Linked DNA regions of Homo sapiens. The protein of the gene in region 2 purifies or fractionates together with the protein of the main gene of each other region. This does not show direct contact. Each region holds a gene or a part of one and is shown on either strand. Other genes may lie near its edges.

Evidence for each region.
Region 1: the proteins of MYF6 (region 2) and NES purify together in Homo sapiens (affinity purification with mass spectrometry; 2 studies listed by BioGRID and IntAct, with this or other methods). This does not show direct contact.
Region 3: the proteins of MYF6 (region 2) and TBC1D4 purify together in Homo sapiens (affinity purification with mass spectrometry; 2 studies listed by BioGRID and IntAct, with this or other methods). This does not show direct contact.
Region 4: the proteins of MYF6 (region 2) and ID4 purify together in Homo sapiens (affinity purification with mass spectrometry; 2 studies listed by BioGRID and IntAct, with this or other methods). This does not show direct contact.

Annotation. Positions count from the first base shown.
Region 1 is NC_000001.11:156,674,408-156,681,228, forward strand, and holds the start of NES (nestin), read right to left. Parts: upstream 3,001-6,821; 5' UTR 2,858-3,000; coding exon 2,075-2,857; intron 934-2,074; coding exon 809-933; intron 1-808. UniProt on the Homo sapiens protein: Required for brain and eye development.
Region 2 is NC_000012.12:80,703,139-80,709,981, reverse strand, and holds MYF6 (myogenic factor 6), read right to left. Parts: upstream 2,349-6,843; 5' UTR 2,263-2,348; coding exon 1,744-2,262; intron 1,459-1,743; coding exon 1,368-1,458; intron 1,141-1,367; coding exon 1,022-1,140; 3' UTR 508-1,021; downstream 1-507. UniProt on the Homo sapiens protein: Involved in muscle differentiation (myogenic factor). Induces fibroblasts to differentiate into myoblasts. Probable sequence specific DNA-binding protein.
Region 3 is NC_000013.11:75,479,170-75,486,571, reverse strand, and holds the start of TBC1D4 (TBC1 domain family member 4), read left to right. Parts: upstream 1-4,402; 5' UTR 4,403-4,804; coding exon 4,805-5,302; intron 5,303-7,402.
Region 4 is NC_000006.12:19,832,683-19,840,374, forward strand, and holds the start of ID4 (DNA-binding protein inhibitor ID-4), read left to right. Parts: upstream 1-4,687; 5' UTR 4,688-5,072; coding exon 5,073-5,513; intron 5,514-5,901; coding exon 5,902-5,946; 3' UTR 5,947-5,960; intron 5,961-6,527; 3' UTR 6,528-7,692. UniProt on the Homo sapiens protein: Transcriptional regulator (lacking a basic DNA binding domain) which negatively regulates the basic helix-loop-helix (bHLH) transcription factors by forming heterodimers and inhibiting their DNA binding and transcriptional activity.

The DNA.
Region 1 (6,821 bases), on a different chromosome or scaffold from region 2:
GAGCCCCTCTCCTCCACGTCCTCCCCAGAGCCTCACTGACCTTCCATCTCTGGGCCTTGCCTCTCCTCCTTTCCTGGATCTCATGTGGCCCCTCACCAGCCACAGAGCCCCTTCCTCAGGCCCCATCAATGGCCCCTCAGCCAACAGGACCAGTTTCCCAGAAGAGACTGCGGGCTTTGCCCAAGGCCACATAGCAAGTGAGAAGCCACCCCTCCTTGGTCTCAGCCATTTCTAGGATAACAGAAAATGTGGACAATGAAAGGCTGGGCAGGACCAAGGGCACTAGGGGCATCAGAGGAGTCTCGCCCCATGACATCCAGGCTAGAAGAGGCCTTGGAAGTCCCCCAGCCCAGCCCTCAGCCCCTAGACGAGGCTGAGGCCCAGGTCAGGTGGCAAGTCAGTGCAGCCACCCCATGCCTGCAATGCCTCCTTTCCGTGGCTGCCAAAGGACATGACCCCCTGGGTGCGGGCACACATAGAGTTGGAGCTTTGCCCCTTGGGGGAAGGGTCTGGATGCAGTTGCCCCACACGGGCCCAGCCCCTCTCCAGAGGCTGTCCCGCTCGGCAATATCATCTCTCCTGGGGGGATTTCCTGGGCACAGGACATTGCTCAGGTCTCCAGCCTATGGGGGAGCAGACGGTTTCAGGCAGGACATGTTCCGGTGTGGAAGTGACCAGCCTAGAGTCACAGAACCCAGTGGCAGCAGAGTTGCCATCACCTACACCTCTGGTCCCCTTCAGCCACGTAGTCTGCCCCAGCATGTGTGTGTGCCTCTGTGTGCCTGGGTGGACAGGGCTCGTCTCGTACCTGTACGTGGCCACCTCCAGGCTGAGGGACATCTTGAGGTGCGCCAGCTGCTGCCGACCTTCCAGGACCTGAGCGATCTGGCTCTGTAGGCCCTGTTTCTCCTGCTCCAGGGCCTCCACAGCCAGCTGCAGGGCAGGCGAGAGGCAGTCAGTGGAGGGGCTGGGGTCCCTTCTGTGAACCAACCTGCCTCCTGCCCGCTGCCGCTGCCCGGGAAGCACCTCCTGCTCCCTGGCTGACTTATCTGTGTAGCAGACCCCCGCCTCCCCTACCCTATTCCCTGCCCAGAGAGCCCCCTCTGGATCAGCCAAGATGAGCCCAGGGCCCCTGTCAGCACTCTCAGCTCTCTCCCATGGCCTGCTCCTCCTCTGAGGATGCTGATTAAATGGTAGCACATGTTGCTCAGAACACAGCTCCCACAGGAAGGGGAGGTGAGGGAGGAGACGAGATGGGTTATGGAGAGAGAAGAGGGGGAAAAAAAAGCGAAAGCAGAAGGAAAAACGATTAATCAAGATGCCTGGAGCCTGCAGGACTGGAAGGCAAACAGCCCCCGTCCCCCGTTGGTCCCATCTCCCACAACTGTCTCCTGCTCCTCACAGCAGGCTCTCACCCCCGCCCCACCCCCATTTCCCACATGTTCTGGATTCTGTCTCCTCTGAGAGGAGGGATGGGGAGGTGGCCATGGCACCTCTGTGTGGCCCAGGCAAGAAGCTGTTTTCTCAGCTGCTGGTCACATCTGTGCCCTGTGAGAAGGAGCAGCTGTTATGGGCCTCTGGAATGTGCTCCAGGGAGCCGAGAAGCCATGACATGGGAGGGGGCTGGTAGCCATTCATTCACGGCCCCTCACTCCTCCCCTCAGGAGAAGGAGGGCTGTGAGGAACTTGGTGATTCTGAGTGGCCAGGCCACCAGATTCAGCGCAGAGGCGACAGTGCTGGGTGTCCTCCTAGTAATACCAGAGCCTGGGAAGGGACCCGGAGCCCCGGTCATCATCAGAGCCAGAAGGTGCCATCCAGAGAGTGGCGGGGCTGCTGCAACGGGTCTTGGGCCTGACTGCCCACCCGGGATGTGCTTCGAGAAGCCCCACCATTCGCATCCTACACTAGACGGGCTGTAAAAGTCTAGGACTTGTGGCACCAGGTTTCTGAGAACTGGCTCCTGATTCAGCAGCCAGCTAGCCCCACTCCCTTCCCAGAAGGTCTCTGAGCTTCATAAGGGACTTTCTGGAGCTTTCTGGGACTTTCTCTCACCCAGGCCCTCAACCTCCTCACCTGGAACTTTTCAGTAGCCCGCAGCCGCTCCTGCCAGCGGCCCTCCAACCTCTGTTCCAACGCTGCCCTGCGCTCCAGGAGGCCTCCGCGCTCAGCCTGGAGCTGCTGCAGCTCCAGGCGGCCCTCGCGGGCACCCTGCACCGCCCGGCCCAGCCGCTCGCGGGCCTGGCCCAGCGACGTCTCCATGTGTGCCACGCGCTCCTGGTAGCCGCGCACTGCCCCGCGCCACGCCTCGCCCAGTCGCCTTGCCAGCTCCTCTACCTCCGGGGCCGGCGCGGGAGGCCCGCGGGGCGGCGCGGGGCAGCGGGGGGCACAGGCAGCCTGCGCGTTCAGGCCGACGCGCTCCTCCTCGTGCGCCACGCGTAGAGCCTCTAGCTCGCGCTCCAGCTCTGCCACCTGGCTACTCAGCCAGGCCCGGGCGCATTTCTCTGCCTCGACGGCGCGCCGGTTGCGGGCTACCTCCTCCGTCGTCCGCTCCCGGGCCAGCCGCAGCTGCTGGCATCGGCCTGCCACGCCCTCCAGCTCTTCAGCCAGGTTGTCGCGCGCCACCTCGGCCGCGTGCTTCTCCCGCCAGCGTTGGTCAACGAGGGCCCGCAGGGCCGCCAGCTCGTCGTCGGCATGCGCCCGCCAGGAGGTGTCCGCGGATTGTGCCCGGAGCCCCCCGAGCTCCGCGCTGAGCAGCTCATTCTGCTCCTCCAGCGCCTTGACCCGGGCCAGGTAGGCCTCCAGGCGCCGATTGAGCTCCCACATCTGAAACGACTCCTCCCCCATGCAGCCCTCCATCCTGCTCGTCTGACCCACTGAGGATGGACAGACGCGGGGCACCGGGAGAAGGGAGCGGCTCGCAGAGCTTTTAGGACGGAAGAGAAAAGAGACCGACGGGGACAATGACGGGGCGGGGCGGGGTGGGAGTAGCCTGAGCGACTGAGAGTCGGGAGTGGGAGCGAGGCTATTCATACTCCCGCCAGGCGGGCGGGAAGAGGGGCGGGACCCAGGCCTTAACCCCTTAGAGGTCAGAGAGTGGCAGCAGCCTCTGTTCCTGCTTCCCCAGGGTGCTGGAGAGTGGAACCAAAGAAGAAGCTGTACCATGGAGAATCGGATCTGATGGTGGTGGCTTTCTGAGGGAGGAGGCTGTGAAGAAGGGTCACAATCCCCGAAAAAGGCAGATAATGCACAGAACTGAGCCTGTGGGGGTGGGAGTACCAGGACGTTCCAGCCTGGGAGGGAGTGCAGTCTCAGTTACTCAACACATCCGAGAGAGGTATCACTTACTGAATTCCTCTAAGACTCAGTTTCCTCATCCATAAAATGTGAGCAATGATGGAAATCGCATGGCTGCTGAAAAAAATGGATGTGGCCAGGTTTTTGTTTTTCGTTTTTGAAATAGCAAATGCTCCTCCTCCTGAAATACTGGAGAGAGTACTACAGCATTGCAGAAAGAAGCTAGAGAGACGCTGCCTGGAAAACAAGAACAAATGTCTGATATTAGGACACACGGATACACACACACACACACACACACACACACACGCACACACGCTATTGCCTGAGTCTCCATCAGAAAAGGGAGCGACCAGGTTAAGGGCCGTCATGGGCTTAAGAACGTTTGTCCATCCTTCCTACAAGTCTTCTGTATAACTGCGAGGTTCAAACATCCGCTTTAGGAAGTTCTGTTCTTGGGGAAGGGCCCCTTCTCCCGCACCCCCTGCCAGGGAATGTTGGGTAGTGGACGCCCTCTGGCGGCTTTCAGAAGTGGAAGCAGCAGGAAGAGGCCATTCTTTTCCTTCCTAACGACTAGCCCAAGTTTATCCAGCCTTTATGATGTGCCCAGTCGTGTTCCAATATTTTACTTCCATGATCTGACTTAATCTTCAAAACAACCTTTTAAAGATTCTACAGTTTATGAAGTAGAGAGCTCACCAAGGGTGAGAGTAGTAGGGAAGGCTTTCTGGACGGAGTGCATCCTTGAGCTGGGAGGTAAAGGACAGGTGGGATTTGGGGGATTTACAGTGAAGGAGAAGTAGGGCTGGGGAGGAGATGCAGGGATAATGAGACGGAGGGGATCTTTGGGGAAGGCGTTTCTGATCAAGCTGCTAAATCCAATTTAGCTCAAGTGTTAATTGAGTACCTACTATGTGTCAGCACCAAAGAGATTGCAGGAACTCTGTCCCAGCCCTGGAAATGCTTATAGTTTGGTGATGTGAGGTCAACAGTGATGGGCACTCATAGTCTGTTGGTGGAGGTAAACATAAAAAGATGACTACAATACTTAATCAGCCTCCAAGGTGCTGGGGACAGAGCCAGGCAGCACAGAGGATGGAGAGGGTTTTCTGAGTAGAGGGTACAGCCGGGTCAATAACCAGGAAGTCATCCCTCCAATATCCCCTCCCCTTGAGGAGTCTCTCAAGGACCCCATCCCTGTCCCCAGGCCAATGGGGCTTTGGAATTCACCACCAATATGTAGAATAGAGGCCAGGGAGGGGTTAGTGACAGGACATTGACTGAGAGTCAGTGCAGGCCGGGAGGCTGAGGATCTGGGATGCCCAGGCTCCTTCAACCTTGCATTACCTCATAAATCCTGCTGTTTGGTTTGGGCTGAGGGCTCCCCAGAGTTGTGGCCAGCAGAGCTTGCTTGGAATCTCCTCCTCTCTTTCTTTTATTTTTATTTTTATCTTTGAGAGGGAGTCTTGCTCTGTTGCCCAGGCTGGAGTGCAGTGATGTGATCTCGGCTCACTGCAACCTTCGCCTCCCCGGTTCAAGTGATTCTCCTGCCTCAGCCTCCCAAGTAGCTGGGATTTCAGATGCCTGCCACCATGCCAGGCTAATTTTTGTATTTTTAGTAGAGATGGGGTTTCACCATGTTGGCCAGGCTGGTTTGAACTCCTGACTTCAGGTGATCCACCCGCCTTGGCCTCCTAAAGTGCTGGGATTACAGGCATGAGCCACTGCACCCGACCTCCTTCTTTCTTTCACTTTCTGTCTGGGAGGAGAGGGATGCTAAATGTTTGAGATCCCCTGGGATTCTTGGGGGCGGTCCCCTAAAGAGGTAGGGTGGCATTGGGCTGGGGGTTCCTCTCTGAACCCCTCACCCTCACCCAAAGGGGAGACATTTGGAACTGTGTCTCATGCAAAGATTAGCTGACTTTTGCACTTTCTAACTGAATGACATTGGACAAATCACATAACTTCTCTAAGTGAGCCTGAGTTTACCTATTTGGCAAAGCAGGTTAATACCCACCTATCCCTATAAGTTTGTTCTGATAATCAAATAAGACCAGGTATAGGGAAGTCTTTGTATAAAGCCTTTTTTGAGGACCGTCACAATGAAAGCCATTAAGCTAAAGAAAACCTCCTCTTGTGAATCACTCTTGTGAGTTTTAGGAATTATGGGGAATAGAGATTGTTAAGAATTCTGGGGAAGAGTGTGGTGTTGATTTTCCTAAAACAGGAGATGGTAGGTTCCAGCATTCACAACCTAGAGGATCTGACGTCAGTGCTTACCAGATTCTAAACAGATACCTGATATTTGAGGTACTTAGAGAAATAAGGCCCTCCCTAGAGAAACTTAGGCCCTCCCTTCATCTCCTTCCCTGGTGACTGCATTTAGTTACTGGGATGTTTGTGGGGCCATTGGCCGTACCTTTTATTGGGTCTCTGGACCCAGGACATATGAACTATGTGGTACTACAGCTGGTGGATACAAAGTCAGCCCAGCAGTCATCCCCAGAGATGGCCATGAGCAAGCTTAGTGGGTTCTGTGTGCTGCCCCGAGGGAACCTGTCCTTGGTCCTGACAATTAAAAGTTTTAATTAAAGACTTGAATGAAAACATGGAAGCCATGTTTATCAGATCTACAGACTATGCAAGAACTGAGAGTTATATTTTAGCAAAATAGAAAAAAAAAACAGATGACATTTAATAGGGATAAGTGTAAAATTCTGCTTTTGGTTTCAAAAAATCAACAGCATAAGAAGAGGAGAATAAAGACCGGCTGAAGAGTAGGGAGTGTCTAGCAAAGAAGAAAGAGCTGGGGGTTTTAGAAGACTACAAGCTTGTTAGGAAGAAACCAATACTGGGTGGCTGTCTAAAAAAGTGAAAAGGATAAAAGTGACTATAGATTCAAGGTGTCCAGATGAGCAATGGCAACACTCCCATTGCCCTCCACATCTGGAGTGTTGTACTGGACACTATATTTTAAAAGGGACCTTGATGGATTGGAGTTAATCCCAGAAGAAGATGACCAGATGGTAAGGGATCTTGGAATAATGTTTTTGTATTTTTAATTTTTAAATTTTTTAAAATTTTATTTATTTATTTTGGAGACAGTCTCGCTCCATCACCTGGGCTGGAGTGTAGTGGCGTGATCTCGGCTTACTGCAACCTCTGCCTCCCCGGTTCAAGTGATTCTCAGTCTCCCGAGTAGCTGGCACTACAGGCTTGTGCCACCATGCCCAGCTAATTTTTTGTGTTTTTTTTAGTAGAGACGGGGTTTTCACCATGTTCGCCAGGCTGATCTCGAACTCCTGGCCTCAAGTGATCTACCTGCCTCAGCCTCCCAAAGTGCTGGGATTACAGGCGTGAGCCACCACACCCGTCCCAGAGTGTTTGATAAAGACTTTCTGAATGAACTTGTGTCTAAGCTCTGAAACTAAAAATAATGGCCTCTGAGTAGCACACACACAGCCTAAAGGAAATTGCCAGCCCCCACCCTGAAGGCCTTCTCCCCACCGAAGTCTGCATTAGAGAA
Region 2 (6,843 bases):
AGGATGCCGGATGCAGCCCCGGGAACTCCAGATCCACACTTCAGGACAAGAGCGGCCTGGGAAGGCTAAGAGGGAAGGCCGTTTGTGGGTAAATCCGCTGAAGATCTTTTTGGGAAATGAGCACAGTTTTGGTGTGGTAATTTCTTGCAACCATATTTTCCTAGATTGAAAATTCCATTGTTAACTTTGGGTAAGTAAATCTCACCCAGATCTCCAGGTATAGGAGTGTAAAACCAGACGGAAAAAGATGCTGATAAAAGGAAAAATGACATTTTTCTTCTGGGCACTATTCACTTCCAATGACAAGTGTGAGGTCTACGAGAGAGAGAACAGTATCCAGTTTAATTCAGACTAAGGAAAGCCAAATTTCCTTTCAATTGGCATGTAAGGAAACACCCAAATAAATGGGCTTGTGTGGTGTCTAAATTAAAATATGGCTCCTCTTTATTTTTGTACACATGCCTCCAAACATATTTTTCCAGTTCCATCAAATTAGGACCAACTTTGTTCATATAGAAACTTCTTTTTAATATTACAATACCAGGATCCTCGCACATTTTATATACATCATTCCACATTTAAAATATATTTCAGGTTTACGTAAAAAAAGAAAGTGTTAAACTATTTACAAAAATACATTAAATACCCCTAACATTAAATGCAACTTTCCCACTTTAGACAGGAATGAACTTCTTTTGAACATGGCACAAAAGGATCACCGTAATAAAAGTTAATATAGTATAAAACCAACCAAACAAAAACAAAATGAGGCTAGACCTAAGCCACTCGCAGTTCCAAAAAAATAAAAGCCCAAAGCCGAAAGGCGTTTTCATTTGAGCATGCACAACAGATTTCGCAATTTTCGCAACGTTTCTTTGTGAATGTGTCTCCTTCCCTTTCAGCAACTTTTCGGTCTGGGTTCCTAAATGTTAATGTAATGTGACCTAATCTAAAGGATTAGGCCAGGAAGGGTCGGTGGGATCTTCCTGCTGCGTGGAGAAGGTCTCAAGCGCAGGCTCAGTTACTTCTCCACCACTTCCTCCACGCAGGGGAGTTTGCGTTCCTCCGAGGAAATACTGTCCACGATGGAAGAAAGGCATCGAAGGCTACTCGAGGCTGACGAATCAATACTTGCTCCTCCTGAGCGAAAAAACAACACACAAACATAGCACCCAAAGAAGGAACACGAAGCAGCTCCGCGCCCCGCGCGAGGCCGCTTTGGCAGCGAGGAAAGGCCTGGTCCCGGCGCGCAAAGAGCGCCCTTTTCGCAGGGCGCGTCCCTGCTCTCGCTTCGAGCCCTCTCGGCCCAAGCATCCTATCCACCTCCCGGATTTTCTCTGGTGCGGCCCAGAGCCCTTTTACTTTACCTTCCTTAGCCGTTATCACGAGCCCCCTGGAATGATCGGAAACACTTGGCCACTGGGAGCTGCAGGTGCGCAGGAAATCCGCACCCTCAAGCTGGAGGGAAAACCAAGGCAGCGGCAGATTAGGAAAGAAACATCGGTTCCGGGGTTGGGGTGGGGTGGGGGGCGGCTTTCCTGCTTCCTCGGGCCGGGTACGCATTTCCTGCCTATTGCAAGCACCCGGTCTTCTTGGGTCACTGGGGGTTCATTAGAGACGGAGCGGGAGGGGCGGGCGAGAAAGGGGGAAGGGAAAAAAGACCAAGCAGCTGGAGGTTAAGGCCCCGCGGAAGGCGTTTAATCAGCCTTCGCATTTCCCTGCCCCGGCAGCATCTAGGCTTACATTTTCTTGTTTGGGTCTGTAGCTGAAGGGGTCCACCCCCAGCTCCTGCATCTTCTCCTGCTGATCCAGCCGGTGCAGCAGGTCCTGCAGCCGCTCAATATAGCTGATGGCGCTCCGCAGAATCTCCACCTTGGGCAGCCTCTGGTTGGGGTTGGCCACAGTTCGCCGCTTCAGTGCCTCGAAGGCCTCGTTGATTTTCTTTAGCCTCCTCCTTTCGCGCAGGGTGGCGGCTTTTCGCCGGTCAGTGGGGGCAGATTTTCTCTTGCAGGTCTTGCAAGCCCAGATCAGACACTGGCCGGGGCAGTGTGGAGGCTGCAGGCCCGGGGGCGCCAGGACATGTTCCTCTCCGCTGCTGTCGCTCCCCGCTTCCGGGGGCATTTGGTCCTGGCAGGGGGACAAGGTACCATCACTCCCTGGATACAAAGGAGAGCCTTCTGCCACTTCTAATGGCTGCAGAGTAACATTTTCCCCATCCAAGTAGAAGAAATAGGAGCCAGTTTCAAAAAGGTCCATCATCATGTTCTCCTCCTTGGCCTCTGACTCGATCTGAACTGGGTGATGGACTCAAAAACCCAGAGGAACCACCCAGATGGCATTTAATTAGTGCAGTGACATAAGTCGACCCAGCTTTATATATAGTAGCTCCTGAAACTCAATCCAACTTTTAGCTGTCATGGAGCATCAGTCTCCCAATGTGATTGCAGCTAGTGCTCTCTAGAACATCTAGTTTGAAAGAAAACTGAGAAGTGTCACCTCCCAGAGTGTTGTGACAATCTATGTGCAGACCAGGTTACACAGAGAGAATCACATAACTTAAACAAAGCATTGAACCCTTCCATTTTGGGCAGTTTAGATACTAACCTGCTTACAGGACAACTTCAAAACAACTGGGGATTAACATTGCCCTATTCCCCTCCCCCTGCGCTCATCTGAATTCTAAGTATAGACCCATGATGAAAGATTTCAAAGGCAATAGCCATTGCTCCAAAATAGCCGGGTTAATATTTGCAGAGTGGTTCAGCTCCTTTCTCTCTCCTGCCTCTCAAAAAGATGCTATTCCTGTGATTAAAACCATTACAGTGCTTCAAAGGTTATACATGACTTTCAGGCTTCAACCTCAATAGAAGCAGGTAAATCTCTTTCCTCTCTTTTACTAAGGCTGCAAGATGATTTGGGAAATGGAGGGGGTTGCTGAAGGGTGCTCACATCCCATGATACTGGATGAAATGATTCTCTGGGTCCTTCCATAGAGACCGTCCTTGACTATCTTTTTTTTTTTTTTTTCCTTTGGGGAGAGGGGCAACCAGGATCTGAATTCTGTACCCTTCCATTTGTGGAGCAGTATTACATATGAGGTAGGGAGTGGGATAGAGGATGGGGTTACAATACATGTAGTAACTCCTCCTTAAAAATAGTTTTAGTGAAAACAAGACTCACACCACAGCTACTTGATATTTCAGCATTTACTTGTGGCCCCCTCCAAGGTGCCTCTCTTATGATTCCAGTTCTGCACACTGTGTGCTCACCACTTTTTCTTTTGCATTCTCACTATCCATTGACTCCAAATAAGTTGTTTGATAGGATTTAAGTGAGAAAGGTTAGCAACCAAGGCACGAGCAAGGAAACAGCATTTTTTAAATTGCAGCTTGCCCATGGTCCACAAGATACATGTATTGTTCTTCGGGAGACAGTACAATATGAAGGTCAAGTGCGGGGGCCCTAGATTCCAAAGAACTATCAAGTCCTAGCAAGGTTAATTTCTATGTATATATCCATGGGTAAGTACTAGATCTTGATGTCTTCAAGATGATAGTGGTTTCCTTACAGTTTTAGTGAGGATTCAATCAAATGATACCATGCATGTGAAACACATAGCACATAGCTGCTTGATGAACAGTAGTTATCATTTGTAGTATAAAGCCATGTTAGGGCAAAGACTCATTCCTATGAATGAAATAAAGCATAGCTGTTGGAGAGGTTTTTCTTTTTCTTCCCTCTCTCTGTTTTGTTGTTCTTTCCCTTCCTTTCACCTTTCCTCCTAGAGCTCTAGAAAGACTTCCTAGCTGTAACTGGCCTTTGGGATGTCAGTTGACCTTGGTTTTGGTCTTTATAGTCAGTGCCTCAAAAACTATGTGGGAACATAAAATCTTATTGCTCTACCCCAAGCAGTAATGATTATAAGCTGTGTTCTTTATGACTTTATTTTAAAAAATGAATAGAGTGAAGATAATGCAGGAAATCAACTGTCAGATAATTTAGAAATTAGCTAATCAAGTCGCCTATTCTAGAAGATGATTCTTCACAGTTTCTATTGAGCCACAGACTGGATGTTAAGCTTTGATATTTTTGGCTGTTTTTATTCCTTATCAAGTTTAATACTATTCTTAGATTTTTGGAATGGTAAGAAGGAGAGAGAAGAGTTGCAAGAGGCCAATACTTCTTCTGTGACTTTTTTTTTTCTATTTTCGCCAGTTTCTTGGTTGCTCAAGTCAGCAATTAAAACTGCAGATTGAAAGTTTCAGCAACTCAGGGTATAATCTAACATCTATTATAGAAAATTAGCTTGTGCTCTTAACCACACTTTATGTTGTCTCTTGTAAATGTGAAGACAATTTGAAAAGTTAACTAAGATTATTGTGATAAAAATCATTAAGAACATTAAGATAAAAATGACTAATTTTTTTTATTCAGCATTTATTGGGTACCTACTAAGTGCCAGATAGTGTCCTAGGTGCTAAGGATAAAGCATTAAAAAAAATCTCTCTTCTCATGGAGTCTGAATCTAAAGAGGTGAGTTAAATTAACAGACCAAATGGGAGAAATAGCCTTGGAATTGGGATGGGGAAGGCCTAGATTATAGTCTTTTGGGGCCTGTGAGGATTTAATGAACTCTACTATCTCAAATTCTCAGATGTTTAATCCGTAACATTGGCATAATGACAAAAGATGTCCATATTTACAGGATGTTATAAAAATTAAACTTTTAAAAACATGAAACCCACCTCAAAAATGTAGCATCCTCTCTAAAAGTACTTTTATTATTGGAATTAGTATGTTCAGAGAAAAATAAGGGAGAAAAATATCACTACTAAGCAATTTTGAAGCCTGGGTGAAGAAATACATTTAAGGTGTTACCATTCTTAGACTTGCCACTGATTTTAAGAGGTATCAGATAGATGTTAGAGAGCCTTCATATCATGAACCCGCTAAAAAATATGGAAGTTCGCCTTTTCCTTTTTCTGTTTCTTTCATTCAAGTGTCACCACTGGAGAAAGAGCCAGTTTAGAAATGTAGAAAGAGAATTATTTTTTTAAAAAAGTATATAAAGCTTTGGGGTGCAGATCAGGAGCAACTTCTTAGGCAAGGGTGGCTTTTACTGGTATAAAGTCAACTTTCACCTATTGAATTCTTCCTTATTAAATTATGAATCCCCTTTTCCAACACGCTCTAGACCTCAGACCAGTAAAATTAGTGGGAGTGTTTACCCTGGTTTAAACAGATTTTTCCCCTTTTTTGTGGTTGTTTTGGGAGTTGAGGGCAGGAGGTGGGAGGAGAAAACAAGGAAATGCCAGCTTGGGAAATAATCACCCTTTATTAGATTAGGTCAATGGGAAAATACGCACTGATGCCAAACTTCTAACTAGTGAACTCTTGGAACTCAAACTGTTTACAAAATATGAGATGCCTGTAATTGCAATTATATCACTTCTCAGTAGAACTTGGAGACACAGACCTTGACAAGTGGTCAAATCAGTTTTACATAAACTGCAATCCTCCAAGCTTTAAATAGTCCAAATATTTTTTTAATTATGGAAAAAGTAAATGATAATAGGGGAATAATAATATTATCATTAATAAAATCACTCCAAGGGGACTAGACTTCATTCATCATAAAATCTGAAACTAGATTAGTGACAGGATGGGAAGTTTTCATGTGGTTTACCACCCTGTTGTTCTTACTTCATGCTTATTCATTTGCAAATGATTTTTTCCCCCCAAAAAAGCCTGAGTGCCTCCCAATTCTTTTCTGTGGGAAGAAGTGGGAAGGAAAGTATTATGGCTAGCTCACATCAGTGGATTTTAGCTATGAGCCTTTGGAAATGTTGCATATATGGTAGAAAGAGAAGAGACCTTTGGGGAAAGACAGAATCTGTGTTCTAGCCATTCTTAAGTATGTGTTTCTAGCCACAGTTTTATTAGAGATCAAAAAGCATATACATTACACATATCATAGGCTTTCTTTTCACACTAAATTAAATAATATATTTTGAGCCCATGGTATGAAATATGCACTCAGCAAATATTAATTCTCCTACTCAATTTGTAAGGCCTCTGATGGAAAGAATCATAGTGAATTCACTGAAAAACCTAGATTTGGTGAGAAAGATGTTTCTGAAAAATTTGGGGATTTGTGTTAATCAAGGTGAAAATATTGAAACTAGTCGCTCTAGTAGCAGAGCTTAATGTATTTATACCCTCATTAAATTTCCAGTTTACTGGGGAACAAGATACTAATTAAAAGTCACACAAATGAATAACCGAATTAGGAACTTTGAAAGAAAGGAATGTAGTTCTCTAAGAGTGTGTAACAGTAAAGTCACTCCTGAACAGGAAGCTTGAGAAAAGGATGGTTTGGGAACAGAAGTTCCTGAGGTATTGTGGTGGCATTTCTAGGGAACAAAGTTCAAGCTTTTTGAAAAGCCTTTGGAAAGTAACAGGATGATGGTGACAGTCAGAAAAAGCTCAAGGAAGAAACAGACATAGATGACTGTCAGAGACTAGGGAAGAGATTTGTGTGGGTGATAGCTGGGGAATTTGGTTACATAGTCAGATTCAAAGAAAGCAGTTTCAGCCACAGCTGATAAAGCAGAACTGAGGGCCGGATAGACGATGATTATACTCTTTCAACTATGAAAAATAGAAGAAAGAAAAGGGTATAGAAGAACGGAGAGAAGAGAGAGAGGAGAGAAACAGAGTGAACAGAACGCAGGCTAGCCCTCAGGACGAAGGGTCACCCAGCAAGGGCGGAGAGTAGCCATAAAGAATAGAAGGTAAAGGAGGAGCCCGCTGACTGAAAGGCAAAACTCAGAAGAGGCAGAT
Region 3 (7,402 bases), on a different chromosome or scaffold from region 2:
GAATTTCCTTTTGGAGGTTTCTGTCTTCTAGCTTTAGGCTAGTAGGCTGGATGAGATGATTTCCAGACCTCCTGTAGGGCTGTCAGTCTGAGCCTTTGCTGTATGTCCTGGTAGGTGTAGCCAGTGCATCAGCGAACATGGTCACTGCCTTGTCCTCCTTGTCCTGACCACAAGGGCTTTTCAGTTCACTGACTCTGGTTTGTCTCTGTGCTTTTCCTTGGCTACATGAGGATATATCCAGTGCTCCCTTTGCATGCAGGGCATTTCCAGAGGCTGTTTAAGGTCTGCTGCCTAGATGCCCTCTCCCCTTCTTCTGCTTCCTCTCTATGATGGGCATGGGAGAAACACCGAGGTCTTGCAGGTTTCCTGGGCTACCCTTGGGAAAGAGCAGCACAGCTTCTGCTCTGGAGAACTATGCCCCCCTCCACTGACTTAACCAGAAGAGACAGAGCCTAGGTCCCCTCCCTGGAGATCCACAAGACCTAAACCCTCTTATTCCCATTCTTCTCCTCTATCTCCCAAGTTTGGGGAAATTTTCTTTAGTGTCTAGAGCAAGAGAAACTGACTCTTGGAGCATATAATATATTTTAAATCTTTTGCCTGCCTTGCCAGGTCCTTGGGTTTTTTTCACCTGAAAGCTAAGAATGAACTCTTTTGTTCTCTGTGTTATGCTGTGTCATCCTTTCCCTGAAGTGGGAAGATGGAATGCCCTGGCTGCCTGGGCTGAAGGAAGGTCACAGGGAACAATGAGGAAAAACCCTGTGAATATCTTGACATTCTGTTAATCACAAATGCTTGGGTTCTGTGTGTCATCCCCAGCTAGAACTCCACTACAATTTTTGGGAGGCGTTCTATTATTTTTTAGTACTTTATAATTAGTTGATGGATATATTTAGTAGGTTAACCTGAAATTAGCTAATTAAATCATTTGGCATATCTCCTCTATGATATCAAAACATCCCTCTTTAGCTTCTTAAATTCTAATCTGCTATTTATTCAACTCCACTCATTCATTCAGTATTTATCACCTACCTAGTGTCAGCTACTGTGGTTTTTACTGGAGGAAAGTATGAGACAAACAAATAATCCCTTCAGAGGAACTACTGACTCACATGTGGGGGAAAAATAATCCCTTCTCTCAAGATGCTTTTGTTGTGGTGGGAATGCAGACAAATCACCCCAAAATTCTAAAGAATGATAAGAGTTATAATAGTGAAATGCATAGAAAAGGGGGCAAAGGAGAGAAGGCCATTAGCTCTGGCTGGCAAAGAAAGAAAGATCTTCACAGAAGAGATGACTCTTGAGTTGGGTCTTGAAGAATGGGTCTTGAAATAGTGAAGGATGAGGAAATGCAAGTTGTGGGGCAGTGGGAAGAAAAGGCAGTTGGGGAGAGGAAGGAGCTGGTGAAGCCCCATAAAAACATGAACATGTACTAAGGGAACAGGGAGACTGTGTGGAAGTGAGAGTAGGGGAATGAGGAGCAAAAATAAAATAGGCAGAAAGAGTAGAGCGTTGCGCTTTAGGAAGTCTATCTCTCTCTCTCTCTCCCCCTCTCGATGGAATCTGGCTCTGTTTCCCAGGCTGGAGTACAGTGACGCTATCTTGGCTCACTGCAACCTCCGCCTCCTGGGTTTAAGTGATTCTCCTGCCTGGACCTCCTGAGTAGCTGGAACTACAGGCACCCGCCACCACGCCTGGCTACTTTTTTGTATTTTTAGTAGAGATGGGATTTCACCATGTTGGCCAGGCTGGTCTCTAACTACTGACTTCAAGTGATCTGCCTGCCTAGGCCTCCCAAAGTGCTGTAATTACAGATGTGGAGCCACCAACCCTGGCCCTCTTACTGTTTTCTAAATTTAAGTGATCAAATATATAACTGGGAACTTTTCATGCGCATGTAATTTTGTAAAGCTCTGCAAGTGATACAATGGTGGTAAGAAACTAATAGCTTACCATCTAGTTCATGTGTGTACTAAGTAAAATAGATGTATGAATGATTATAAAACAATTTGTATAAAACATATTAATGCTAGAGTATAACAATTTTATTTGCAGGATAAGAGAGATTAATAACACAGTAGAAAACAATCTACAATCTCAGTGGCTTAGTGGAACAAAAGTTTATTTCTTACTCCTGAGGAGTCTGCTGTAGGCCTGGGAGATTCTCCAGGACAGATGTCTGATGTGTGTTGGCTCAGCCTTTGGGGCTGCTTTGGTTACAAGGGGCTGCTTTGGTTACAAGGCGCCTCTACCTGGACATGTCTCCATGATGGCCACTGGAGAGAAGAGTGGGCAGGAGCCTCGACTACTGGCAATTAAATGCTTCTACCCAAGTCACTTCTGTTCACATTTCACTGTCAAAACAAGTCATATGATTGTGGCTAACTTCAAGGAGGGCAGGAAAGGACTATCTGCCCATGTGTGAGGATTCAGAGAGGATCAGACAGTAAAAATGCTCAGTAGCATTCAGTAAGATAAACCTAACAGGGCTGGGTGCAGTGGCTCATGCCTGTAATCCCAGCATTTTGGGAGGCTGAGCTGGGCGGACTGCCTGAGATCACCCCGTCTCTACTAAAAATACAAAAAAATTTGCCAAGCATGGTGGTGTGCACCTGTAATCCCAGCTACTTGGGAGGCTGAGGCAGGGGAATTGCTTGAACCACGGAGGTGGAGGTTTCAGTGAACCGAGATCGCACCACTGCACTCCAGCCTGGGCGACAGAACGAGACTCCGTCTCAGAAAACAAAAACAAAAACAAAAACAAAAACAAAAAAAATAACAATAGAAAGAATGAGGGGCATTCTCAAGCAGAAAGCAATCATACTTAGCATGTCATGTAATAAAAGACAATTCTGTTTTTCTGTCAATCAGTGAAAGGGTGTTCTTTGTTACTTCACTTTATTATGCCAGTAGTAACTGGCCTGCTGGAGCTATTAATTCAATCCTAGCTCCCAAGCTGGTTGATTTCGTAGAGTCTACAAGACTTCCATGCTTTCTCCATATCTTTGTTCCTTTCTTTTATGTCTCAGATATGTAGCCTAAGGAAATGGGATCTGTGTAACAGAGTTTCTGGGAAGGTTCTAGAAGGTCTCAGTCTACCTTCCAAGAACTTTTCATTGCTTCTTTGAAGACATGGGTCTTTTTGAACAAAGGTTTTTTAAGTGGTTCAACCAAATGACTTAACCTAATCAATTAGTAATGTCTCCATCTTGGAACTTAGATACCTATTAATAAGAGAGCCATCAGAGTGCAACCAGAAATTCAGCATAAGAACAATGGCAGTTGGTTATATTGATCTTAAATAAATAGAAGGGAAAAAGTGGTCCCAGGGCTTTATAAAAAGTGAGAACTCATTAAACTAAAAACCAAGAAACCCGAGTTTTCATTCTTCTTGTAAGCACTTAGGAGAAAGTCAGGAACTTCTGTGTCTTTCTTATTTATTTTGTCTTTACTTCTTACCCAATTCTTAATTATCATTCGGTATGAGTAAAAAGGGAGAATACTTGTCTACCTGTCTTAAAATTACAATGATCAAATTATTCCAAACTTTTTTTTAGTTCTTTGGAAATATGTATTACCACATATATATAAAAGAACAAGAAATCTCTACATTAGCTCTCAACTGGGGATATAACATAAATAAAACATAACTTTTCCATATTTTAAGAAGTTGGCTGCTTTAATAACTAGGAAGATTCAAGCTGTCGATATTATGTTTTAAAGTGAAATTTGGAACTGGAATTTATAATATTGTGATTGAAAACACGAGCGTTTTTTGAGATTATTAGGAAAGATAATTCAGAAATTAATGTGTAGGCTTTAGAAGGAACTGAAACCAAGCAAATACTGTTAAAAAAAAATCCCAGTTCTCCACTGCGAGTGGCCCCCTCTCTAGGGGGCAGCAGAGACGCCCGGGAGGAGACGGAGATCGCGGCGACTCAAGAGAGGCCAAGTGGGTCCGGGCAGTGCCCGCGCCAGGCTCTGAGCTGCAGCCCCAAGGGCGGGGGTCGAAGGAAGAGGCGAAGAGGCGGAGAGGCGGCTTCACGGATAAGCTTTTGCAGGCGACGCTCTCCGCCCGCCGGACGGGAGGCGGAGTAGCAGCCCGATTAAAGAAGCAGCCTGGAAGGAAGGAAGGAAGGAGCGAGGGAGGGACGGGAACGGCAGGAGGAGGAGCAGCGAGCTGGGCTGCAGCTGCGGCGGGAGGAGGAGCGGCCCCCGCGAGGCCACGTTTTGTTTTTGTTATTTTCCACTGGAGTAGTTGCCGGAGCCTTTCCTGAGGACTGACCGCGCCGCAGCCCTGCAGCCCCGACCTTCCAGGTGACAGCCGGTCACCCTGGTAGGAGTCAGCTCCGCCCCAAGTCACCCCCTCCCGCCCACAGCCCCATTCCCCGCCCAGCCACCCAGTGTCTGCCCCAGGCGAGCGCGGCGGCCGCAGCGGGGCTGCAGCGCTGGAGCCGGCGGCCGCGGGGACCCTCGGCGTGGTCCTCTGACCCTGCAAACCCGCGACGGAGGAAGGGGAGGTCCTGCCCGAGGCGCCAGCCCAAGGAGGAGGATGCCCATTTAACCCGCCCTCGCCTGCCGGGCGCTTGCCTCGGTGCCCGCCGCCGGAGCCTCCGAGCCGCGCCCGTGGAAGTGCTGCATGGGGCAGGGCTGCTGAAGCGCGGAGTTCGGGGTCGCGCCGCTCCCAGGCAGGCGCGGGAGCCCGGTGCGGCAGTTGGCACAGTTTCGGCGGCGCCTTCTGCGCGGGAGTGGGGGGCGCGGTGCGCCCGGCCGGCCTCCGCGGTGCCCTGGTGAGGCGAGAGTTATGGAGCCGCCCAGCTGCATTCAGGATGAGCCGTTCCCGCACCCCCTGGAGCCCGAGCCGGGCGTCTCAGCTCAGCCCGGCCCCGGGAAGCCAAGCGATAAGCGGTTCCGGCTGTGGTACGTTGGGGGGTCGTGCCTGGACCACAGGACCACGCTGCCTATGCTGCCCTGGCTCATGGCCGAGATCCGCAGGCGCAGCCAGAAGCCCGAGGCGGGCGGCTGCGGGGCGCCGGCGGCCCGAGAGGTGATCCTGGTGCTCAGCGCGCCCTTCCTGCGTTGCGTCCCCGCGCCGGGCGCTGGGGCCTCGGGGGGCACTAGTCCGTCGGCCACGCAGCCCAACCCGGCGGTATTCATCTTCGAGCACAAGGCGCAGCATATCTCGCGCTTCATCCACAACAGCCACGACCTCACCTACTTTGCCTACCTGATCAAGGCGCAGCCCGACGACCCCGAGTCGCAGATGGCCTGCCACGTTTTCCGCGCCACAGACCCCAGCCAGGCAAGACAGGGGCTCGGAGGCGCGGGGGCGGGCTCGGCCTTGGGGGATCGGGGAGCAGGGCGGGAGGGGCGGGGACCCCACTTTAAGGACCGACTGAGGTTTGGCTGCAGGCGCGCGCGCTCCACGTGGCGCGCTCAAGCGCCGGCTGGCCCCTTCCCTGGACCTTGGGAGTGGGAGAGAAGGCGTTCGGGGGCTGGGCGAGCGGCGGGAGCGGCCGGCCGGCTACAGCAGGGACCCGGAGGGAAAAGGACAACGGTCCCGGGATGGAGGGGGAGCTGGCGCGTCCAAGGAGCACGCGTGGAGGAGCGCCCGTCCCGGGAGGACGGCGGTGTCTGGGGTGTGACCGGAGATGGCTTGCTTGCCGTGTGTGTGTGTGTGTGTGTGTGTGTGTGCGTGCGTGTGCGCGCGAGCGCGTGTATGAACGCAGAAGGTTGGGTTCCTAGAGGTCCTCACTAGTTCTCAATCGCAGTCAAATCCTTAACCGGTTTGGCTGGTCGCGTCATCTTCGCAGCAGCACCTGCAGGTCTCCGGTCTGGGAGGCAATTTCCGAGCGGGGCTTAGGGAAAAGTTACTAGACATCGTCAGATTGTCTGCAAAGAAGGATTCTACATTTGGATATTGAATGGAAAGAAGCCCTTTTTTTGCGGTTTTTAAACACACTTATTGGAGGCAGTGTAGTAGAACAGGTTTCTAATATCATTTTTTAAATGTTTTTTTCACTTTTGTTTTTAATATTTTTTTTCCAGAGTCTTCTAAATCTAATTACCAAACAGTAAACTTTACTTCCTTAAAAACAGATATGGTCCTTATGGAACAGGGAGAGGAGAACTTGACTATGCAGTGATTGTGTCTTTGAAAACAGAGTTTTCCCCCTTTAATTTGTAATGAGTTTTCTCCCCGCCATATCAAAAGCTTCCAAAATGCTGTTTTAAAAATGGTTATTTACTGTTTGCACAGTACTTTAGGTTCTTTGGAAAAATAGTGTTGTCTAAATATAAATAAAGTCTCAGGTTGCACCATGTGGCTTTCTTTTGGTAACTGGGAAATTAATCGTAGTCAGATGAGAAAAACATCCTATAAATATGGCTTTAATTTTTTTTATTTCACAATTCTTCTGTCTGTAATTGAAAGACTTAGTTCAACAGTTTTCACAAAAGGCTTGTAGTTGAATTGAAGAAAATAATAGTTCATTGTCTTAGATTTCATCAGTTACTTTGAAAAATAGGTTTTTTTTTTTTGAGACGGAGTCTTGCTCTGTCGCCCAGGCTGGAGCGCAGTGGTGCGATCTCGGCTCACTGCAACCTCCACCTTCCGGGTTCAAGTGATTCTCGTGCCTCAGCCTCCCCAGTAGCTGGCATTACAGGCACCCAACAATCAGAACTCCTAATGTGAAGTTATGTTTATGGCATAACTGTTATGTTTATGGCAAAATATCGTACTAAAATTATTTCAAGATCCTAACCACGATTTAATGAATTTCATTTTGTGAACATTTGTTCAAAACTTATTTTTAGCTTTCACATATGTTAAAATTGGAAAGTTTCTGAAAGCTATTACATTTTATTGTATTACATTTTTCTGGTTCTGGTGGTAAAGAGGAGCCAGTTGCATTTTTCCAGGACTTTAAGGAACTTTTCATGACTCTCGGGGGTTTCTGTTAAAGTTATTTCCCCCCAGCGACATCTGATGCATGACACATTGTTGCTAATCTCATTGATGGTCCTGGCACCTTTAGTTCTCAACAGCTGCTGTTGAGTTCCTCTTGGTCTCATTGGTAGGAAGTCAATTATAAACATTCCTTTATTTTCCTCCATTATATATTTAAGCGTTAGAGGCTGAACTATATAAATATTAATATGTTTAGGCTCACTTCCCCCTTTTAGTCCAGTGGGAGCAGTGGTAGTCATATGACTTTCTCATAAAAGTTCAAGAAAACCTCTAACTTTCCTGTTTATTGCCTTTTCCCAGATGAGTGTTTGATCTAAAGATATGAATTACTATTTGCTCTTAACCAAGAGATTTCCTGGCAGAGGGTTATTAATTTGAAGGGCCAGATGTAGCGTCTCTAGAGAGCATCTCCAGCCATTAATCGGTGGTTAC
Region 4 (7,692 bases), on a different chromosome or scaffold from region 2:
AACAAAGGTGCAAAGGCAATTCTTTGGAAAACAGGTAGACTTTTCGACAGAGTGCTGAAACAATTGGATCTACAAATGCAAAATATTAATTTCAACCCATATCTTGCACCACATACAAAAATAACCTCAAAATGGATCATAGACCTACACATAAAACAGAAAACAAAGACTGGAGACATAATTTGTGGGTCCTAATGCAAAATGAAAATGCAGGTTCCCTTGTTCAAAAATTACTAAGAATTTCAAGAAGGCAAGAGCACTAACCCAAGCATACAGCTCTTCTGAGTGCAGGACCCTGTGTGACTGCATAAGCTACACACCATGCAAGCAACCCTACCTAAGAAATATAAAAATTCTAGAAGAAAACCTATGAGAAAACCTTTGTTACCTGAGCTATGAAAGATTTCTTAGATAGATCCAATATCAAAAATATGAGCCATAAAGGAACAAACTGATAAACTAGACACCAACAAAATTTAGGGTGGGCATGGTGGCTCACACCTGTAATCCCAGCACTTTGGGAGGCCAAGGTGGGCAGATCACCTGAGGTCAGGAGTTCAAGACCAGACTGAACAACATGGTGAAACACCATATCTACTAAAAATACATAACTAGCCAGGTGTGGTGGTGGGCGCCTGTAATCCCAGCTACTTGGGAGGCTGAGGCAGGAGAATTGCTTGAACCTGGAAGGCGGAGGTTGCAGTGAGACAAGATCATGCTATTGCACTCCAGCCTGGGCAACAAGAGTGAAATTCTGTCTCAAAAAAAAAAAAAATCAAAACTTCTGCTCTAAAAGAAGATTGTGAAGTAAATGAAAAGTCAGTCCACAGACTGAGAGATATTTGCCAAAAATGGTAATACATTGTAACATGGTTTGCCCACTTATGTGCCAACCACTGTTCTAAGAACTTTACTGAATTTCTTTTACAGAGACCATATATATAATATGTGTATCTCATAAACACCTTATGAAGTAAATGCAATTTTAATCATTCCAAATATGAAAGGTATAGGAATTTAAGAACCCAGCTGAATGATATAAAACTAATAAGCAAAGAGGCCAAAATTGGGGCTTAGGCTGTCTCACTTCAGAGTCCATGCTGTTTATATCTCCTAAGGTAAAAACAAATTCCACTTATTTCTCCCCATTTTTCTGTCTTTTAATCTAAGGGGGGCTTTCAAAAAGTCACTTCTTATTTAAACCAACTACCTTTAAAACTCCCCAAACAAGGCATTTTTGACAGCCACATCTGCCCAGCCATGTTCAACGTACAACGTCCTCTTCCTACAAGCCTTTTCCAGGACCTAGCAAACTAAGGGGTTATCAGCATTTCCGGGACTAGTATCAGCAATCCAAGGGTAGCACAAGTAATTTTGTAACACTTAGTGCCTGATAAAGCAGCCTTGAGCTTGAATTGCCACATTGCCCAACTTACTCTTTGGGAGCAAGGGACAGTCCTGCTGCAGAGTACATAGTGGTTTCTTATGCCCTCAAAGAATGCATGTGCCTCTTTCTGTGACGACAAATCTACAGAGTGACCAAGGCATTGGAACATTCACGTTTATCTGTGTATGAGTACACTCACTGTTTCCCTGGAGGCTATGGAGAAACAAGTATCAAGTCCTAAAAAGGCACTGGGAATGAAGAGCACAATATGCTTCCATACCCTTGCTTCATGTAAACACAGGGTGACTATGACTTCTAAAGGCCTGGGTGTTGCAGTTCAGTGAGGGCCTGATTTAGTAGCTAGAATACATCTCAGGGAGGACAGCAGACCTCTTTGTCTGGAGGAAGGGTGTATCCATGACTCTGGTCATCACGGCTTTCTAGCAATTCTCCTATGAATGTTTCATTCTAGGTTCCTACTGAGGTATATTTTGGGAGTCTCGAGCATTTCCATGACAAAAGGATTTGGGTTAGCCCATTTTACTTTTACAAGTGCAAGTGAAACACTTTGATGTAAAAGAGTCACCAACAGACTAAGTTACCTTCTCTGCACAGTAGAAATAACATAGCTTGTAAGGTTTATCCAAAATCTGAGTGATAATTGGGTAAACTGTTTTGAATTATCAGTGCCAGGAATCTTCCATGATTGCAGCTTTGATGTCATGTAAGTGTCTATGTCTAAGAATACAAAAACATACATTGCATAGCCCCTAGTACTCTCTGGTTTCATGGACCAAAACGTGCAGGATTGTATTCCTTATTCCCATAGTATATGGTAGCACTTTAATTTTTTAATGTCTTCATGCCTTCCAACCTTCAAAACAAGGAGCACAGTAACTGCCTCTGCCTACTCTGCTAGCAGGATTTACGGATCACATCTTTCCTGGGTATTCTTGATCTTGTGGCTGAGGTACATTCCTTTGAAACCACCTCTTCCACCCCACCCCACACAGAGTAACTCAGTCTTTCTAACTTTAAGCCAGTCACACAGAGCATCTCCAACAAAACCTGAAACTTAGGCATTTGGCGCTTGTCACACCCAAGGCATGGCTTTCTGAGATTTAGCAAATTCCAAAAAGGTCGATATGATTCTTCCTTTGTGTTACGTATTCAAAACTTAAATTTTAATTTTAATCGTTAGGATATGTAAAATGTTTAAATGTAAGTGTGTCCTGGGCATATTAGCATAGTTTTATTTTGCCAAACAGAGGAAAGTCTTGGGTTTTGAATTTGGAAGCAAATTTTAAACTCTAGGAAAGAGAAAGATCAATGGAACAAAACATCTGTACATATATCCATTTATTATTATCGTCTGTGCTCATATGACTGGCTCCAAGATAATAGCTTACAACCAGTAGTGCTGGCTTCACCGACTTCCCATTTAAAATTACAACATTTTCTCTGTATTTGCATTAATTTAATGATGTATATGACTATGCCTGTCTTTAGAAGAAAGCCCTTCTGAGTTTCATAATTCTGATTTTCTCGATTAATGTGTATGTAGACCATCTACGTATGCACATAAATAAATGAGAATGGCACTTGTTTCCAAACAATTATTAGAAGCAGTAACATACAAGGATTAGGGGAGAGGAGGGTTATTGCATCTACCTGTGAAACCAGAATTAAATAGTTGCTCCTCATTTCATCAGGAGAAAGGAATGTGCTCTGGGGAATAGTGCGATAGTCATAAAGCACTGACATAGCTAAACAAAATATCTGCCTGGTGCAGGTATTTCAGTTCTGGGAATGGATGTAGAAAAAGTCCATATAGGGGTAGACAGGAAGAAATGAGGTCCATGTCTCTTTCTTTCAATTATCTATGAAAATGAAGACACCAATCCATGTCATGTACACGAATGAAGAAAATTCTTGGGTTAATTCATCTCCAAGCGTGTCTAAAGGTGGGAGGGTTTGTAGAGTGAAGGCACTCAAAATTCATTTCCCCATTGTCTGAGAATTTTTATGCACCTTTCTCATCTGAAGGGCTCAATTTTTTCTTGAAGGGTACACACAATGCTCCACCAAAGCTCATTGTGCAATTTTATTTTGAACCCTTGAAGGACAGCTTTTCTCTAAGAAATCTAACACAAAAACGCCCTTAATTAACAGGCTTTTTTTTGCAGGGTGGGGCCCAAGCGGGATCCCAGAGACTGGAAGTGTGAATTTTAATGCTTTGCTGTCAAAGGAGGCGACTCTGGACATTCTCATCACCTTATTTAAAGCGGGGTACGCTGACTAATACGTGAAGCTGTGCATTAATGGCCTAAATTAAGTTACAGGTATGAATTTTACATAAAACAGATTAATATTATATGTCATAATGGAATTTTAAATATTCCGTGTCCATGCATTTTTAATCTTTACGTGCTCTAATTGAATGCGCAAGGCAACTGCATTTCTTGAGCCCACTTTTGCATTTAGATGGGGTAAAAGAACCCCCCCCACGTTTTTGTTTTATTTATATTCCCTTCACCAAAAACCTGCATTCGATTCGGCATTCTTTTCCTTCTTTTTTTTTCTACTTTTGCTAAGCTTTAGCATTTTTTAAAAAGAAAACGGAAAGGCTACACATTCCATTCCATCATTATGGTTTCGGCAAATGTGAAAAGGCGAATAATGAAACGGAGGAGGGAAATATAGAACAGAATGAACGTGCCTTCTTGAACAGCGCGTCTTTCTTAAGGCACTGGAATCCCACGGATGGAGTGATGGGTGGCGGAGGGTCCCTGGGCGCCGTGCTATTAGGAGTGGCAGGGTATCCGCGAGCAGGGCCCAGGCGCTCCCTCAGCAGCCTAGTCGGGATAAGGGGGGCGGTGGAGAGTGAATTCCGGCCGCACATTCCCGCAGTTCTTCGCAGGAACTTCGCTCTCTCTTTTCCCCTCCCTTGGGCACACATCAGCCTGGCCCGACTCCCACTCAGCTCTCTTTTCTCAGAACCCCGACCCACAGCGTTGACGGAATGGAGTGCCCTTCCCATTGGCCCGAGCGTCATTCCCCGAGGTGGCACTGCCCGCCTGATTGGCTGGCCACTCCAGACCCCCCGCCCACTCCTCCACTCGGGTAGCCGGACTCCCCGCCCCCCAGCACCGCCCGGAGCCCCCGCCCTCGCCTCTCCCTCCGCGCCCCCGCCCGCGCGCCCAGCGGGCTCCGCTCGGCTCGCGCTGCGACCCGGCCCGCGCGCTGGTCCCGCCCCCGGGGCGCACGGCTCTATAAATACAGCTGCGCGGCGGGCCGGGCGAGAGCGTAGTGGAGGAGGCGCGGTTGTGAGTAGTACCGGGAGTGGGGTGATCCCGGGCTAGGGGAGCGCGGCGGCCGCGATCGGGCTTAGTCGGAGCTCCGAAGGGAGTGACTAGGACACCCGGGTGGGCTACTTTTCTTCCGGTGCTTTTGCTTTTTTTTTCCTTTGGGCTCGGGCTGAGTGTCGCCCACTGAGCAAAGATTCCCTCGTAAAACCCAGAGCGACCCTCCCGTCAATTGTTGGGCTCGGGAGTGTCGCGGTGCCCCGAGCGCGCCGGGCGCGGAGGCAAAGGGAGCGGAGCCGGCCGCGGACGGGGCCCGGAGCTTGCCTGCCTCCCTCGCTCGCCCCAGCGGGTTCGCTCGCGTAGAGCGCAGGGCGCGCGCGATGAAGGCGGTGAGCCCGGTGCGCCCCTCGGGCCGCAAGGCGCCGTCGGGCTGCGGCGGCGGGGAGCTGGCGCTGCGCTGCCTGGCCGAGCACGGCCACAGCCTGGGTGGCTCCGCAGCCGCGGCGGCGGCGGCGGCGGCAGCGCGCTGTAAGGCGGCCGAGGCGGCGGCCGACGAGCCGGCGCTGTGCCTGCAGTGCGATATGAACGACTGCTATAGCCGCCTGCGGAGGCTGGTGCCCACCATCCCGCCCAACAAGAAAGTCAGCAAAGTGGAGATCCTGCAGCACGTTATCGACTACATCCTGGACCTGCAGCTGGCGCTGGAGACGCACCCGGCCCTGCTGAGGCAGCCACCACCGCCCGCGCCGCCACACCACCCGGCCGGGACCTGTCCAGCCGCGCCGCCGCGGACCCCGCTCACTGCGCTCAACACCGACCCGGTGAGAGGCCGGGCGCCGGCCGTGGGCGGACGCCGCGGGGGATGGGAGGTTGGTGGCGTGGTGGCGGGACGCGGGCGCTCACCGTCCTCCGGGCAGGGGCGGGCCAGGAATGACAGCCCCCTCCCCCTGCTCCTCCGGGCTCCCCCGGGCCGCCAGCAGCCGGCCGGGCTCGGCGAGCGCGGGTCCGGGAGAACGCGCAGGGCGGGACTCGGGGCTGTGGGCGCCCTGGGCTGTCAAGTCCCGCCTGAGCCCGGAGGGGCCCCCCCGGCTACAGGCTGGGGTGGGGGCGTCGGCGCGCCAGCCTGATTTCCGAGGACAATCCAGGACCGTGTCGAGCGCGTTGTTTGCGCCTGCTAACCTTTCCCTTGGTGTTCGGTTGCTGTTCCAGGCCGGCGCGGTGAACAAGCAGGGCGACAGCATTCTGTGCCGCTGAGCCGCGCTGTCCAGGTGAGCGCGCATTTCCCGTCTCGGGTGGCCGGTCACCAGAGACGCCCGTCCCCGAGGGCTTCCGGGGCCAGGCACCGCGGTGTTCTTTGCCCCCAGCGTTTCTGAGAGCAAACTCCCAAGGAAGTAAATCCCCTCTCTCCCTGCCACCTAAGTAGCAAGTAAACCCGTACTTAGCCTTAGAACTCGAGGTTCAGTCTCGGTGGAGACGGGTCAGCCCTTGTCCCCGCCGTCCCCGTGTTTTTTCTGGTGGTCAGCGGGCTCTTCTGCCTTCCCTAGTTCCCGAGGGAGGGCACCCTCGTGGGCATGGGAGCTGCCCCGGTGTCCTCCCGTGCAGTCTGTCACCCACAAAGGGGGACGCGGGCAGGGCGCCGGAGTGGGTCCCCTCTCCGGGCTTCCCGAGGGCCGCAGCTGCCTGCTCGGCGCCTGGCCCGGCCGCGGGCGGGTGTTGTCTGACCTGGTGGTTTGTTTTGGGTTGTTGATCAAGCATGTCTTGAGTTTGGTCGGTGGCGCCAGTTAGTCTGCAGCGAGAAGGTTCACACACCCCCTCTATTCATTCCTCTTCCACAGGTGTGCGGCCGCCTGAGCCCGAGCCAGGAGCACTAGAGAGGGAGGGGGAAGAGCAGAAGTTAGAGAAAAAAAGCCACCGGAGGAAAGGAAAAAACATCGGCCAACCTAGAAACGTTTTCATTCGTCATTCCAAGAGAGAGAGAGGAAAGAAAAATACAACTTTCATTCTTTCTTTGCACGTTCATAAACATTCTACATACGTATTCTCTTTTGTCTCTTCATTTATAACTGCTGTGAATTGTACATTTCTGTGTTTTTTGGAGGTGCAGTTAAACTTTTAAGCTTAAGTGTGACAGGACTGATAAATAGAAGATCAAGAGTAGATCCGACTTTAGAAGCCTACTTTGTGACCAAGGAGCTCAATTTTTGTTTTGAAGCTTTACTAATCTACCAGAGCATTGTAGATATTTTTTTTTTACATCTATTGTTTAAAATAGATGATTATAACGGGGCAGAGAACTTTCTTTTCTCTGCAAGAATGTTACATATTGTATAGATAAATGAGTGACATTTCATACCATGTATATATAGAGATGTTCTATAAGTGTGAGAAAGTATATGCTTTAATAGATACTGTAATTATAAGATATTTTTAATTAAATATTTTTTTGTAAATATTATGTGTGTGTTTTTTTTTAATCTATGGGAATATTTCTTTTGGAAAATCATTTTTCAGCTCAATTACAGAGCTCTTGATATCTTGAATGTCTTTTCTGTTTGGCCTGGCTCTTAATTTGCTTTTGTTTTGCCCAGTATAGACTCGGAAGTAACAGTTATAGCTAGTGGTCTTGCATGATTGCATGAGATGTTTAATCACAAATTAAACTTGTTCTGAGTCCATTCAAATGTGTTTTTTTAAATGTAGATTGAAATCTTTGTATTTGAAGCATACATGTTGAAAATACACCTTATCAGTTTTTAAGTACAGGGTTTTATAGTGTAATATATACAGAGTAAGTGTTTGTTTTTGTTTTTCAACTGAGGTCAAAATGGATTCTGAATGATTTTGCATATGGGATGAGGAAATGCTTGGATCCTTAAGGAGTTTACGAAATCTGCTGTTTTATCAAAGTGAAAAAAAATTGCTTATTACTCTTCATTTTACACTAAAGCTTAATGTCACTAAGTTTCATGTCTGTACAGATTATTTAAATCATGGAAATGA